3 linked regions of the Homo sapiens genome follow. The protein of the gene in region 3 purifies or fractionates together with the protein of the main gene of each other region. This does not show direct contact. Each region holds a gene or a part of one and is shown on either strand. Other genes may lie near its edges.

Region 1 (3,313 bases), on a different chromosome or scaffold from region 3:
TTGCAGTGAGCCGAGGTCACGCCACTGCACTCTAGCCTGGGCAACAAAGCAAGATTTGGTCTCCAAAAAAAAAAAAAAAGAAAAAAAATATACATAACCTAAGGCTTAATGTAAAAATGTAAAAACCAGTGTTTAAATTTGTAACTGATTTCCAAGGGTATAGCAAACAAGCTGACCAAGTGTTATTTAGTGTATGCTATGGTTAGATATTGGGAAAAGTATTGACTAAAATTGATACTCTGATCATTATGAAAAGCTTAACAGTCTTCATGACAAGATACATTTATACATACCCAATTTATTGAGACCTCTGCCACAAGCATTGTATTGGACATTCTTATGTTGACTTAGTAGCATCTTTGAATTCATTGGAGAGTTGTCTCTTTCTCATCCCAAGCTCCAAAGCTGAAGCTTGGAGGAGATACATTATGTGTGTACAAGTGACCCACCTTTTTGGGGAAGGGAGTGGAGGCAGGTTGGTAACTTATATGCATATTTCTGGATAACTTGATTCATGTACATATTTTTAATCCTTTAGGTACCCAGGCACTCCAGCTGATTTCAATCCTGGTTCTTTAGCATGTTCTCAGCTTCAGAATTACGATCCTGACAGAGCCCTAACAGATTATATCACTCGGCTAGAGGCACTGCAAAGACGACTTGGAACTATACAGTCAGGTGCTCTGAGTTTAACCACATCTTGGCAGCACCACAGTGCGAGACCCACAGCTCCCCTTTCTTTGAAATTCTTTCACACTCATTAGGATAATCAAAGCTTCCAGTTTAGTGCATGAGCTAATTATTAAGTTAGCCAAAGCTTAAACTCTTGTAACCAGCAGAGAAACTGACTTTAAATAATTTAAGTGAAAATATGATTTATCACCCCAGATCCCACTCCTCCCAAAAATGATTTCCTACTATGTTCATTCAGCGGACTGATGACACAAAATGCACAATGAGCACCAGTGTGCAAGGTACTCTGAGTCTACAGAGCCTAACTGGAGAACGTATTCCTAAGTAGCGCATGGCAGAAAGTGGTAAGGCCGTGCCGCAGCACTCCAGCCTGGGCAGCAGAGCGAGACCCTGTCTCAAAGAAAAAAAAAAAAAAAAGAAAGTGGTAAGGCATGCAAATCGGGTGGAGTTAAGGAGGAAGCACTTACTTTAAGCACTTAATGTAACCATTATCCCTGCTACTATATTGTGCTTTTATGTATCATCGAAAAAAACTATCCCATTTAAAATACTTTGTAAGGATTATTTTTTCTTTGTTCAAAAACAAAAAACAAGTCATACTTTAAAATAAAGGTGGATTCCCTGTTCATGGAAGGAAAACCTCTTTTCCCTATCTCACTTCAGTTCACTCCTGATTCAGAGACTTTGAATCATTGAGTAGTTTATCTCTTCCTTCAAGAAATCATTTGTTTACACCCAAGCATCTTGTAGTAATAGGAAACTTTTATTATCATAGCTGAGTTTGTTGGTTTGCCTAGGCTTGTTTTGTTTTGAGCATCCAAATTTCACAAGACCCAGATTTTGAAGACCAAAAGATTTTTCAAAAATGTATGAGGTATAGAACATCCAACTTTGAGAGCACTTTAAAAAAACTCTAAATATTAGTCTCACCTACCTTGCCATAGAGCCAGTCATGGTGATTTTTACATATATATTCAAAATCTCTTAAAAGTCAGCTTAAGTATATGGGCTGGGCGCGGTGGCTCATGCCTGTAATCCCAGCACTTTGGGCGGCCGAGGCAGGCGGATCACTAGGTCAGGAGTTCAAGACCAACCAGTTCGAGACTAGCCTGGCCAACATGGTGAAACCCCGTCTCCACTAAAAATACAAAAATTTGCTGGACATGGTGGCATGTGTGGATAGTCCCAGCTACTCAGGAGGCTGAGGCAGGAGAATCACTTGAACCCAGGAGGCGGGGGTTGCAGTGAGCCAAGATCACACCACTGAATTCCAGCCTGGGCAACAGAGTAACACTCCACCTTGGGGGTAGTGGGGAGAGACTCAGTTTAAGTATGAAGAGGACATTTTAAGGAAAAAAAGGGCTTTAAAAAAATGGAGAATAATAATAATTTCCTTTGTGTGAACTCTGGTGGGTCTGATACAGGTAGCAATGTAATTTGAAATCAGTTGAATTTCCTGTTTTTCTCTCATAGGTTCAACTACTCAATTTCATGCTGGCATGAGAAGATAATCCTTTGAAACATCATTAATTGAAGTGATTTTAAATAGATTTCCTTTTGTAAATCAATGGTTCTTTTGTGCTTTTGTATTGTGAATATTCAATGGGACCAATATGAACACAGCTTATGATTGTATACAAATCCCTTGCCAGCACATGAAAACAAACTGGAATTTGTATATATAAGCATTGTGTATGTATTCATGCACAATAATTATTGAATTACCTGTATATTTGTGGAATGCTAATTTAAAACATTAAATTATAAACCTTGTGTATTTATCAAATGGGTGAAAAGATTAAACTTTTACGCATTACAATACTGCTGAATGTGTAGCTCGAGGTGTCCTGCACTTTTCTTATAAGGCTACTGAAGTTACATGTTTTGCCTAATATATTCTACTGGTGATGAAGACAGATAATATCACTTGTAGAGACCTATTTTTGTATAATGGTAGAAGTTTTGAATTTTATGGGGTATTTTGTCAAGTACTGAAATAAAAATGACTTCACCATTTTCACCACACTGTATTTGAACCTTCTTCATTTTTAACTGAGCCATAGTTCTTGGTACATAGCATCTCATTACTTATGTCAAATATGTAGGAGTGAGAGATTCAGAGAAAGTTGTCCTAATCTTAGAGTTAATACTGTTGAAAGTTTTCCATGTGTCTTTGTATCAACTTTACATCTACATAGTGTTTTTTAAAAGCTATATTGGTATTTCATGATTAATCAGTATTTACTATATTACAGTTAGTGTTACTTGTTTCCAAAGATGTGTTCTCACAAATCCATGGCCCACTAAAAAGATGAAGAAATCATTAACTCAAAAGATCTTAATCACATTGCAGCCGAATTAAACAGTATCCCTGTTGTCCAAGCCAAATTCAGACTGGGAGGCTCTCACAGAGATAATACAGATCGCAATGTTATTTCTCATCTGGAGTCCTCCTCAATAACATGGCAACTCACTAAAACAGCAAGAGGACTAGTATTTGATGCTTACACCTGGAGGATTTTGTCTTATTATTTGATGTTCCATGATTTATACCAACACAAACAGGCATGGTAGAAAGTTGTACATGCTTGAACATTTCTAATTTCAGTCATCCCTCGGC
Region 2 (3,657 bases), on a different chromosome or scaffold from region 3:
CAGTGAGGCAGAAAGAATGAAGGCAGCCAAAGTGCTTCTAAAGCAATACGTGGGTAGGCCTGAAGAGGGGATATTTATTAAAACTATTGAGGATTAGGACAGACCTTTTATAATTCTCTGGCTTTTCTACATCAACACCTAGCAGCCAGTGGCACCAAAGGTGGTAAGCAAGTTTATTCTCAGCACCACAGCCCACAGGCCCAGACAGAAGTATGAAGTTAGAGGAATTTCTAACTCCCCTTTTCTCTTTGTTAACAATATATACTCAACCTTGAGTTTTGCTTGTCCCATTCTTTTTTTTTTTTTTTTTGAGACAGAGTTTTGCTCTGTTGCCCAGGCTGGAGTGCAATGGCGTGATCTCGGATCACCGCAACCTCCGCCTCCCGGGTTCAAGTGATTCGCCTGCCTCAGCCTCCCGAGTAGCTGGGATTACAGGTGCGCGCCACCATGCCCGGCTAATTTCTTGTATTTTTAGTAGAGGCAGTGTTTCGCCGTTTTGGCCAGGCTGGTCTTGAACTCCTGACCTCAGGTGATCCACCCGGCCTCCTATTCTTTACTTTGCTGCCTATGGATCCCTGACAAGTTGTTCATGAGTAATTGAGATGCTGGCTGAGAGTCTCTGACATAGTCCCAATGAACATGCTTCACACTACAGTGGTCTCTCGGGGATGGTATAGTGATCTTAGTAATTATCAGCAAAAGGCTGGTGGCCCATACAGGAAGGAGTAAGTGAAGTTTAGCACGCCTCCGAACAACATTATTGATCCCCAGTATCATTCATCTCTTCTTGCCCTTGCAAAGGATATTCATAGCAGTAAAATGGCCAGGCGCTGTGGCTCACGCCTGTAATCCCAGCACTTTGGGAGGCCAAGTCAGGTGGATCACTTGAGGTCAGGAGTTCGTGACCAGCCTGGCCAACACGGTGAAACCCTGTCTACTAAAAATGCAAAGATTAACCAGGCGGGGTGACATGCGCCTGTAGTCCCAGCTACTCGGGAGGCTGAGGCAGGAGAATCGCTTGAATCCAGGAGGCAGAGGTTTCAGTGAGCCGAGACTGTGCCACTACACTCCAGCCTGGGCGACAGAGCGAGACTCGGTCTCAAAAAAAAAAAAAAAAGTAGTGAAATGATAGATCCTGAGGATAAAACTTCTTTTATTTATTTATGTATTTTTATTGATCATTCTTGGGTGTTTCTCGCAGAGGGGGATTTGGCAGGGTCATAGGACAATAGTGGACGGAAGGTCAGCAGATAAACAAGTGAACAAAGGTCTCTGGTTTTCCTAGGCAGAGGGCCCTGCGGCCTTCTGCAGTGTTTGTGTCCCTGGGTACTTGAGATTAGGGAGTGGTGATGACTCTTAACGAGCATGCTGCCTTCAAGCATCTGTTTAACAAAGCACATCTTGCACCGCCCTTAATCCATTTAACCCTGAGTGGACACAGCACATGTTTCAGAGAGCACAGGGTTGGGGGTAAGGTCACAGATCAACAGGATCCCAAGGCAGAAGAATTTTTCTTAGTACAGAACAAAATTGAGTCTCCCATGTCTACTTCTTTCTACACAGACACAGCAACAATCTGATTTTTCTATCTTTTCCCCACATTTCCCCCTTTTCTATTCGACAAAACCGCCATCGTCATCATGGCCCGTTCTCAATGAGCTGTTGGGTACACCTCCCAGACGGGGTGGTGGCCGGGCAGAGGGGCTCCTCACCTCCCAGTAGGGGCGGCCGGGCAGAGGCGCCCCTCACCTCCCGGACGGGGTGGCTGCCGGGCGGAGACGCTCCTCACTTCCCAGACCGGGTCGCGGCCGGGCAGAGGAGCTCCTCACATCCCAAACGGGGCGGCGGGGCAGTGGCGCTCCCCACATCTCAGACGATGGGCGGCCGGGCAGAGACGCTCCTCACTTCCTAGACGGGATGGCGGCGGGGAGGAGGCGCTCCTCACTTCCCAGACTGGGCAGCCGGGCAGAGGGGCTCCTCACATCCCAGACGATGGGCGGCCAGGCAGAGACGCTCCTCACATCCCAGACGGGGTCGTGGCCGGGCAGAGGCGCTCCTCACCTCCAAGACTGGGTGGCGGTCGGGCAGAGACACTCCTCAGTTCCCAGACGGGGTCGTGGCCTGGCAGAGGCGCTCCTCACATCCCAGATGGGGCGGCGGGGCAGAGGCGCTCCCCACATCTCAGACGATGGGCGGCCGGGAAGAGGCGCTCCTCACTTCCCAGACTGGGCGGCCGGGCAGAGGGGCTCCTCACATCCCAGACGATGGGCGGCCAGGCAGAGACGCTCCTCACTTCCCAGACGGGGTGGCGGCCGGGCAGAGGCTGCAGTCTCAGCACTTTGGGAGGCCAAGGCAGGCGGCTGGGAGGTGGAGGTTGTAGCGAGCCGAGATCACGCCACTGCACTCCAGCCTGGGCAGCATTGAGCACTGAGTGAACGAGACTCCGTCTGCAATCCCGGCACCTCGGGAGGCCGAGGCTGGCGGATCACTCGCGGTTAGGAGCTGGAGACCAGCCCGGCCAACACAGCAAAACCCTGTCTCCACCAAAAAAATACGAAAACCAGTCAGGCGTGGCGGCGTGCGCCTGCAATGGCAGGCACTGGGCAGGCTGAGGCAGGAGAATCAGGCAGGGAGGTTGCAGTGAGCAGAGATGGCGGCAGTACAGTCCAGCTTCCGCTCGGCATCAGAGGGAGACCATAGAAAGAGAGGGAGAGGGAGACCGTGGGGAGAGGGAGAGGGGAGAGGGGAGAAGGGAGAGGGGAGAGGGAGAAAACTTCTCTTATGGCCTTCGGTTTGTATTTCTCAGGCCAATAGATGTATCTATTCCAGTCAGAGGGCTCGTGGTTGCTATTTTTATATTCCCTCTTTTCTCACGGACTGAGAGAAACTAGTTAAGAAAGAAGTAACCTCTTTCTCATACTTTTTTTTTTTTTGAGACAGAGTCTTGCTTTGTCACCCAGGCTGGAGTGCAGTGGTGCGATTTTGGCTCACTGTAGCCTCTGCCTCCTGGGTTCAAGCAATTCTCCTGCCTCAGCCTCCCAAGTAGCTGGGACTACAAGCGCCCGCCACCATGCCTGGCTAATTTTTTTGTATTTTTAGTAGAGACGGGGTTTCACCATGTTAGCCACGTTAGTCTTGAACTCCTGACCTCGTGATCTGCCCGCCTTGGCCTCCCAAAGTGCTGGGATTACAGGCATGAGCCACCGTGCCTGGCCTTTCTCATACTTTTAGAAACCCTTATTTGACCAAATCCTTCCAGACCCAGGACAGGGAGATTTCCTTCTTTCCTAGGCTCCACCCACTAACCGGTTCACCAGCAAACCCTCTGGCCCTATTGACCACAGCAAGATGACTGGTATACAGAGTGAGGGTAACAGTTCTAGCAGACTAGGAGAAATAGCTACAAAAGCAGCTGGCTAACTTCATATGTATACTCCATAAATCATTAGGTTGGGTGGTTTGTGAATAGATTGTAGAATTTATGAGCAAAGCAAAGAGAGATATGAAGTCCACTGAGGCCTGGCCTCTGCCTATTGTCCTTTTTCTGGGCCTGAGAACATTGACTGGGTCTTTCTGAATGGCAGTTATCATGGGTTTTAATGATGTTTCCTTATTTTCAGATTGATTTTGTAGCCCATGATGATATTCCTTATTCAT
Region 3 (3,657 bases):
ATTTGTTTTGTCTCAGGCTTGTGGCACCCCAAAAATCTGTTTTAAGAATTTTGTAAGTATTAGAAGTATTTGAGGAAGCTACATAGCAGTGTACTAGAAAAGCTACGTCATTTATTTATATTAGAATCTAGAAGTTATTGATAGTATGACCAAAAATTCTTTTGAGGGAACAGAGTCATTTGGTTCGTATAAACTGTGTTTAGGAAACAAAGAAACCAGACAGAAGGCTAGATAACTTTACCAAAGAATCCGTTATAAAATTATTAAGTATTATCTGTGAAAAGCAAAGTTCTACCCTTGTTATAAAAAATAATAGACCACTTAGCTTTCATGATCTCATTTCTATGTCATCATATTTAAATGAACTTATTTACATAAGCTGATAAATCTACTTAAATAATAAAACGTTTTTGTTAAGCATATTGAATGTATATGAGGAGGGGGCAGTATGAGAAATACTGGAAAAATACAAAAGGGTAAAGTAGCCATTACATTCTAGATGCTTCAGTTAGCACTAAGGAGATAAGATATATGAAAGAAGAAACAAAACAAGATATAACATGATTAATGACTAAAGTTAAATCTATCAGTTCAGTATGGATTTTCCTCCATCACATCCATTGTATTGATATGATATTTAAATACTAAACTTTTAGGATTGTAAAGAGGAAAAAAAAGACCCACAGAAGCTATATCTAGTATCTTTTCTCCATTTATCCCTAAAAGATTAGGAAGCTTTATATGTTAATTTATATTTCCCTGAAAAGATGTTTCCCTTTTCTCAGAAATACATTCCATTTTTAATAGTCAGGAAAATCCTTAAATATTCTCAAATTCTCTCAGGTGGAAAAATCAAAATATATATTTTCTCATTGGCTTCTACTTGAAAAAAAAGAAAGGGATTTTGTATTTCCATATGTGGCATTAATAACCAGAAGACTATAATTTAAAAATTCCTCAATTTATAAAATTTTGCTATGTCCTAACTATGAAAAGTCTGCTGTTACATACTTACAATTTTTAAAATTCTTTTAATCGGCTATAGATTTTTTTAAAATGTTGTTAAAAGTTCTGCATTTTTCACTTTACTTAGGAAATCCAAAATTATCATTCTTTCAAGTAGATAATACTTTTTAAAAACTAGTTATGTTGTTCTTCTCTACTATGTAGTTGAAAATATAGAAAATAAACAATGTTTATTTGACATTCTCTGTATAAATCTACAATAGATTCTGGTTTTTTGAGCAAACCTCAAGGATGGAAAGTTACAAAAGTGAGAATGAACACAGTGAACTTCCCTTCTATAAAACACATTAAGAGGAAAGAAGAGCAATATATTTAGGTTTAAGATCAGATGACCCTTTTATACCATTATGACTATAGTTAATAACAATGCCTTGGGTATTTGAAATAGCTGAAAGTAGATCTTAAATGTTCTCACCACAAAAAAGATAAGTACGTGAGGTAATGGATATATTAATTAGCTTGACTTAGCCATTCCATAATGGTATACATATATCAAAACATCATGTTATACACCACAAATATATATAATTTTTGTCAATTCATAAATAGAAAATTAAATATATGAAAGGAGAAAAATGATCAGATGACTCTAATTTTCATCTCATACAATTGGCCTTCCTGACTTCTCTAGGAATTGCTTATTTGTGCAGCTTGAAATTGTACTTAAACTACTTCGTCACAATGCTGGCTCGTTTGTTTTGTATACTTAAGTCATTTTTAACTTACATCTCAAAATGTAATGTAATATAGCTGGCCCTCTCTAGCCATAGGTTTTGTATTAGTGGGTTTTGCATCTGTGAATTCAACTGAGGATTGAAAATATTTGAGAGGGGAAAAAGAAATGATTGCGTCCCCACTGAACGTGTGTAGTCTTTATTTTTTTGTACTTATTCACTAAGCAATACAGTATAACAACTATTTACATAGCTTTTACATTGTATTAGGTATTATAAGTAATCTAGACATGATTTAAAGTATATGGGAGGGTGTGAGTAGGTTATATACAAATATTATACCACTTTATATAAGGTACTCAAGCATCCTTGGGATTTGGTATCCTGGGGGAATAAGGGGCCTGGAACCAGTCTTCATGGATACTGACAGACAACTGTATGATGCTCCTTTTATTTTTATTTTATTTGTCTTAATCAATTCCTTCTTTGTGGTTTTTATTTCATAGAGACAGAGATCAGTGAGTCTGGCATGACAGTGAGAAGTACTGGCTCTGCAACTTCCTTGGCTAGCCAGGGAGAGAGAAGGAGACGAACTCTTCCCCAGCTTCCAAATGAAGAAAAGTCTCTTGAGAGCCACAGAGCAAAGGTTGTAACACAGAGGTCAGAGATAGGAGAAAAACAAGACACAGAACTTCAGGAGAAAGAAACACCTACACAGGTATACCAGAAAGATAAACAAGATGCTGACAGACCCTTGAGTAAAATGAACAGGGCAGTAAATGGAGAGACTCTCAAAACTGGTGGAGATAATAAAACCCTACTTCACTTAGGCAGCTCTGCTCCTGGAAAAGAGAAAAGTGAAACTGATAAGGAAACTTCTTTGGTAAAGCAAACATTAGCAAAACTTCAACAACAAGAACAAAGGGAGGAGGCTCAGTGGACACCTACTAAATTGTCTTCCAAAAATGTTTCAGGTCAGACAGATAAATGTAGGGAGGAAACTTTTAAACAAGAATCACAACCTCCAGAAAAAAATTCAGGACATTCTACAAGCAAAGGAGACAGAGTGGCACAAAGTGAGAGCAAGAGAAGAAAAGCTGAGGAAATTCTGAAAAGTCAGACTCCAAAGGGAGGAGACAAGAAGGAATCCTCCAAGTCATTAGTGCGACAAGGGAGCTTCACTATAGAAAAACCCAGCCCAAACATACCCATAGAACTTATTCCCCATATAAATAAACAGACTTCCTCTACTCCTTCTTCTTTAGCATTAACATCTGCAAGTAGAATACGAGAAAGAAGTGAGTCTTTGGATCCTGATTCTAGTATGGACACAACCCTTATTCTAAAAGACACAGAAGCAGTAATGGCTTTTCTAGAAGCTAAACTACGTGAAGATAATAAAACTGATGAAGGACCAGATACTCCCAGTTATAATAGAGACAATTCTATTTCACCAGAATCTGATGTAGATACAGCTAGTACAATCAGTCTGGTTACTGGAGAAACTGAAAGAAAGTCAACCCAAAAGCGAAAGAGTTTCACTAGCCTCTATAAAGATAGGTGTTCCACAGGTTCTCCTTCCAAAGATGTTACAAAATCATCATCTTCAGGTGCTAGGGAAAAAATGGAAAAGAAAACAAAAAGTCGTTCCACAGATGTGGGTTCAAGAGCAGATGGTCGTAAATTTGTTCAGTCCAGTGGGAGAATAAGACAGCCCTCAGTAGACTTAACAGATGATGACCAAACCTCTAGTGTACCTCATTCTGCCATCTCTGATATTATGTCATCTGATCAAGAAACTTACTCTTGTAAACCTCATGGACGGACTCCACTTACCTCAGCTGATGAGCATGTACATTCCAAACTGGAAGGAAGTAAAGTAACGAAATCTAAGACTTCTCCGGTGGTATCTGGTTCATCTAGTAAATCAACCACCCTTCCAAGGCCACGACCTACC

Evidence for each region.
Region 1: the proteins of CEP170 (region 3) and AKAP9 purify together in Homo sapiens (affinity purification with mass spectrometry; 3 studies listed by BioGRID and IntAct, with this or other methods). This does not show direct contact.
Region 2: the proteins of CEP170 (region 3) and PCYT1A purify together in Homo sapiens (affinity purification with mass spectrometry; 3 studies listed by BioGRID and IntAct, with this or other methods). This does not show direct contact.

Annotation. Positions count from the first base shown.
Region 1 is NC_000007.14:92,107,956-92,111,268, forward strand, and holds the end of AKAP9 (A-kinase anchor protein 9), read left to right. Parts: intron 1-538; coding exon 539-678; intron 679-2,166; coding exon 2,167-2,204; 3' UTR 2,205-2,718; downstream 2,719-3,313. UniProt on the Homo sapiens protein: Scaffolding protein that assembles several protein kinases and phosphatases on the centrosome and Golgi apparatus. Required to maintain the integrity of the Golgi apparatus. Required for microtubule nucleation at the cis-side of the Golgi apparatus.
Region 2 is NC_000003.12:196,242,604-196,246,260, reverse strand, and holds part of PCYT1A (choline-phosphate cytidylyltransferase A), read left to right. Parts: intron 1-3,620; coding exon 3,621-3,657. UniProt on the Homo sapiens protein: Catalyzes the key rate-limiting step in the CDP-choline pathway for phosphatidylcholine biosynthesis.
Region 3 is NC_000001.11:243,164,666-243,168,322, reverse strand, and holds part of CEP170 (centrosomal protein of 170 kDa), read left to right. Parts: intron 1-2,206; coding exon 2,207-3,657.